Regions from separate parts of the Homo sapiens genome. Here region 2 is linked to region 1. Evidence: fine-mapped expression QTL. A gene starts in region 1. The other region holds a variant in brackets. All regions are shown on one strand. Distances are between the middles of the regions.

The links. PIP is the estimated chance that this variant, and not a neighbour inherited with it, causes the effect.
Region 2: its variant is fine-mapped to the expression of CD36 in whole blood (TOPMed, PIP 0.97).

The regions. Positions count from the first base shown.
Region 1 is chr7:80,637,477-80,640,407 of GRCh38, forward strand. CD36 (CD36 molecule (CD36 blood group)) reads left to right here and starts at 1,166. Exons shown (of 15, transcript NM_001001548.3): 1 at 1,166-1,270.
Region 2 is chr7:80,659,629-80,662,559 of GRCh38, forward strand. CD36 (CD36 molecule (CD36 blood group)) reads left to right here. Exons shown (of 15, transcript NM_001001548.3): 5 at 1,435-1,582. Among named protein-coding and RNA genes, the nearest start is that of CD36, 22 kb to the left of the region's middle. The variant T/C (reference allele first, on the strand shown) is at 1,584.

The DNA of each region.
Region 1 (2,931 bases):
TACAATATTTTTATGACTTATTTTTTAAATAAATATGTCAGTAAAAACTTCCCTGGGGAAAAAAAATTCTTGAGGAGAAAAGAGTGTTTGGGGTTTTTTTTTTCAGTTGTATGGCACTGCTTGCAAATGAAAGGATTCGTTGTGTGCCTCACATGCCCAAAAAGGACAGCACGAGCATTCTAACTTAAGGACTGGTTTAAATATGACCTAATGAACTAAATATATTTCTGTCTGGTATTCTTAGGTTACTTTACTTCTAAGGTTGTTTGAATGCATTTATCCAGCTCTCCTATCAAATACATGCCAGGTTAACCCTGTGAAGGTTTTCCTGTATGATTCTGAGAATTTCTTTATAAGAACAGGGTCTTGATAGTGAAGGTTCTTTCCCCAAAGTGCAAGGCCTTCTATTTTGATTCAATATCAACATAATGCTTTTTTTTTTTTTGAAAGTGACTTAAGTACTAAAGATTATCCTCAATAGTAATTCTACTTAGACATATTTTGGTTGAAGAAATTTAAAGAGTTTATTTTTTGTAGGAGCACTGTGCTGTGATCATGAAATTTTTGCAAAACTAACAGAAAATGATAAACAGTTAAGAACTTCCAGCTAGAACAATAGGCTGTTTCCTTTTTTTAAGTCAGTTTGTCATCCTTGCTGATTGACAGTCTCCAATTGTTTTCAGAATTATTAGTCTCACAGTATTTCAGAATTACGCTGTATAAAAAAGTACATTAAATTTAAACTTAATAAAATAAGTTTCGCAAGCTCAGTCAAGACAGGGAAGTGAGAATATGATTATTCTTCCAAATTTACTATTTCCACCAGCGGTCTCAGTTCAGCATCTGAGAATATGTTAGGGGAAACTCAGCAAGTCAGTTCCTTTTGTTTTTCTGGCCTCTGACTTACTTGGATGGGAAATAGCCAAAAAAAAAAAAAATGCTGAATATCTCAGATATAGGTAATGGGTCTTCACCAGAACATAAAAATAGACCCTTATTAGCCATATCAGTAATGTGCTGTGTGGGGGATTTTTTTTTTCTTTCAATTCCTCTGGCAACAAACCACACACTGGGATCTGACACTGTAGAGTGCTTTCTCTTCTCTTTTTTTGGGGGGGGGAGGGGGTGTGGTTGCATATTTAAACTCTCACGCATTTATGTACTGAGGACTGCAGTGTAGGACTTTCCTGCAGAATACCATTTGATCCTATTAAGAATTGTCCAAATGTTGGAGCATTTGATTGAAAAATCCTTCTTAGCCATTTTAAAGGTAAGTTGTATGATTTTTCTTTAAATAAAAAAGATTAAGGGATTTTTCCCATCACCCAGATGACGGGAGGTGACACTACTGTATAAATACTCCTAAGAAGTTATATAGGAGGACAGGAAAAAAGGTAGTAACTGTTTTCTTAGTCACTAGGCTTTATCTAAAAATCAGGTTTGCATTATTTTCAAGTTATCAACCTTCCTATATTTTATGCTTAAACCATACCCAATGGCATTTCATGTCGTATGTATAAGTTAATATTTAAAGTGATTTATAATCCAATTTGGATTATTATAAAACTTTCATTTTATACTTAGGCTATTTATACATGATGTTTAAATGATGAAGATCATTATACTGCAGACCAATATAATGAGGTTAGATGTTATAAATGACTTACAGCTCTTATGTCAACATGTTGTCTAATATGCAATTATTAACTATTACTTTACAGAGTCATTAGCTTGTTTAATTTTCAATCTGAATTGCACAACTTTTGGTATACCTGACTTGCTCTACATGATCAAATGCAATGTGTATTTTGGATATGTGCTTTTTAAGTTCTTTTCTGTAATGAACAAAGATATTGTCATTGTTACTGGGAATAGCAAAGTATATTACTTTTAAATAATCTGAAATTTAATTAGTGTAAATTAGTAGAATAAAAATAAAGTTAATTTTTTTTCGATTCAGGAAGCTTATTACAAATAGTACTGAATTATTAGATGATGATGCCAAGTTGAAGTAAAGGAGAAATCAATTTGGAGGAATTAAGTAAAAGCCTCAAATTAATTATACATTAACTAAAATTATAAATAACTGTAAATGGCATAAATTCTCTAGAGTACATCCCAGTTTCTGAAATCATCAAGTAGCATATTGAAACCTGTTTTGTAAAGATTTGCATGTACTTTTTAGTCTTTTTCTGTGTGGTTTGAAGTCAGTAATGTGTGTTGAAGCTAAAAAATATTGCTTTAAATATTGGTTCACAAGGAAGCCAAAATGAAATATTTAAAAATGTTTGTTATATAGAAAGTCCAGTGGTCCTTTGGAATTTACAAGAAAATAAGAACTAAAGTAGAAATCATTTAATTTCCCAGACTCATTAGTGAACCAGAACAATAAACCAAACAGAGAACCATCAGATAATGGGTTAGCCTGGGAAGAATATTAATTACAACTGGAGGTACTTGCACAGAGTGTACTGAATTTGGAATTTACCTTGGAAGTTATAGTTGCCACCCTATTTTTTTAAGGAATTTTTTTAACCTTGTTTACTTTAACACATTTGAACCCTGCATGTGTGTGTATTTCCTGTGTGTTTCCTGAAAAGGAAAGTTTAAGATAATTCTGTAACTATCAGATACTTAATTCTGTAAGTATCCTTGCATCTAATCAGAAGATGTTTTTGTTCACTGGCCCAAGATGTGTCTGAAACTTGCAAGTAGCATTGTTCTAAACTAGTAGCTGTCTTTCCATTTGCATATTTTAATTCCATACATATATGATCACATTTCATTATAATCTAACTATTTTGCAAATACTCATTTCTACTTTTGTAAAATATACACATTTATTAGATTTTTAAAACACTTGGCCAATATGAAATAACACTTTACTGTTATGGTTTGAAATGATACTTCATAGTAATATTTCAAAATAAC
Region 2 (2,931 bases), 22 kb after region 1:
CTGTTTTAAGGATTTTTCTTCTAGTGACTGCCATCTACTGGTATAATGTTGTCAGTACACTTTAGGTAACGTGACAATTATGTTGCTATTGTTTTAATATATGGGCATATTTCTGAAAATTGAAGTACTTTGATTTGAAATATTAGTAATATGCACACTAATTTAAAATACAATTGTCCTGAGTGCTGTTTCAGATTTTTATATTCTTTGTGTGTCTGCAGTACTTCAAGAATAGTAGTTTTAATAAAATTATATTAAAAATATATTTCTAGCCAACTTTGAATCCTCTTTTTAAAGAATCTGAGACATTTGTTTAGTAAATACATTTACTGAGAACTCATTATATACCAGGCATGATGCTTAGAGATACAAAACACTCATAAACCCCTACCCTGTAGGAATTTACATTTTTATTATAATGGAATAAAATGGGTTTTTAAAAAATTCAGTCCAATTGCTTAAGTCTTTACCTTGGCTATCTACTCACTTCACAGGCATTCAAATATGACAGTGCAATTATGATATATATCTTATTTCTTCTCAGTGAATATCTTCCACTTGTGAAATGTATTTTTCCTGTAATAATCACCCTTCACCGCGTTCCTAAAATGTAGTTGGTACTTTGCAGCCTAGATATGTTAGAGTCAGGAGATTAGAACTAGCAAAAGTATTCAATATACTTGAGGGGCTGGGGAAGTTAGTCTATAACCCTTAAAAATGGAAATTATATTCTTATCTCTAATTCTCATTAAAGAAGTCCTGAAAAAGGGAAAAAGCAGTGCTGGATAGGCCTTGTATTTTGATCATTCTTTCTAATATAAGAAAATGTGCTCTAAATATTCCCCTGCTGAAGCCCCTGTACTTTTTCCTCCTTATCCTCAGGATAAAGTCTCGTTTGAGTATTAGATGCAACTCTTTTATGTTTGAGATCTTACTTGTTTCAATAACTTTATTTCCACTACTCTCCTCACCTCTTACTCTGTAATCCAACCACACTCAAATATCTGCATTTCCCAAAACATATTATGTTCGTTCTTATGCATGCTACCATCTGCCGTACTTTACCTAACTAAACTTGTATTTGTTACATAGACCATTTATGTAGACTTGTACTAAAAAGTGTTTTAACCCTCACCCCTACCCTGACCATTCTAAATCTGGATCTGGATCTGTTTTGTGTTTTCCCATGGAGTCTCCATTATAACAATATTCCTTCTCTCTCACTATTTTAATTTCCAGTTTGCCAGTTTAAGACCCCTTCTCGTTAGTTTGCTAGAGACCCTGGCTGATTTCTCATTTTAACACCATTGCTTACATACTATCTATCTGGCATATTCTGTGTGTTCAAAAATCATTTGTTGAATGAATGACATTTGAGATCTAATGTTCACATATGACAAATGTTTTGAATTTTGTTTACTGCTATTTCTTTAGAGTTCGTTTTCTAGCCAAGGAAAATGTAACCCAGGACGCTGAGGACAACACAGTCTCTTTCCTGCAGCCCAATGGTGCCATCTTCGAACCTTCACTATCAGTTGGAACAGAGGCTGACAACTTCACAGTTCTCAATCTGGCTGTGGCAG[T/C]GAGTAGACAAACAACAAAGTTATCTATTTTAAAATACTCTAGAACTCATGTAATTAATCCTATCATTAGAATTATTAGGTTTTACTTGTTTTTCCATTTTTATCAAAACGTATTCCTATATCATTATTTTGAATGGAGGCATGGTCATTTGGAAAGTGACAAAATCATAAGAATCGACTGCATTAGAAGACCACTTTATTTTTTTCATTATTTTTTGTCGAAACATTCTCTATATTTAATTTCAATTTTATAACAGATTACAGGAAGATGCTTAAGAAACAAGTACAACATTTGTTTCAGTATGTCTTTAAATGAAAGACTTTTAAGTATGTAAGCAACTATATAATAAAAGGTTTCCAAACGCAGCCTGTAAGAAATCAGGCAAATTTTACTATAAGCAATAAACCATTCCGAGCTTTCCAGACAGTGTACCAGTAGCTGTACCAGTGGGCAATAACCTTTAACCAAACAAAAACAAACAAACAAACAAACAAAAGCACTTTGCAATTTGTTGCTGCAAAATGGGGAGAAAAAAAGAGTATATAAACTTGATGGAATCACAACTGTCAATATAATTTAAGGGAAAATAAAGTCGATAAGGTTGATGGTGTCTATTGTTTGGAAAGTCGAATTCGGCTATTTGCTTGGGGCTCTAGAGACCACACCACTGAATAAACAAAACTCTGCAGAGTCTAGCTATCCGCCAACAGGGGGTGCCGTCCAAATTCATGGCAAATAAAGGGCATTTGGTGCTCACCATTCACAACAGGCGGGCATTTATGTGGATGAAGTACAATTTCTTCAGCAAGCTCAGCAAAAACTCTTAAGGGGCAAATATGAACTCTGCATTTTAAGAAAAATAGAAAACGGAAACACAAAATCCTAAAAAGTATATGAAGGCTCTGCATTAGCACACTGGCATCAAACCACACATCCACAGCACATCCTAATTCTATGGGAAACAATCCTTGCTTATCGGAGGTGCATATCTAAATTCAATAGCTTACCAATATATTCTTGGGAGTAGGCCAAAAGGAAACAGAAAACCCACATTAAAAAAAGAAGTTTCTTTTCCTAAACATTTTCCTGAAGCTGAAATTGAAGTGGAGAGGAAGTCAGTTGTCCTCGTCGAAATCGTAGTCCTCCTCATCCTCCCCAACCTGGGACACCGGGGTCTTCACCCTGGAGATGCTGTACTGAGACCTGTTGGAGCTTGTGGCCAGCATTTCATCCGCACCATTGGTCAGGTCACTGGCAGAGAGCCTCGTGCCGTTAGACGTGGAACCTGCCGTTGTGATGAACACGCCTGCAACAATTGTCTGCGCCATTTCTGTCACGTGTGGCTCC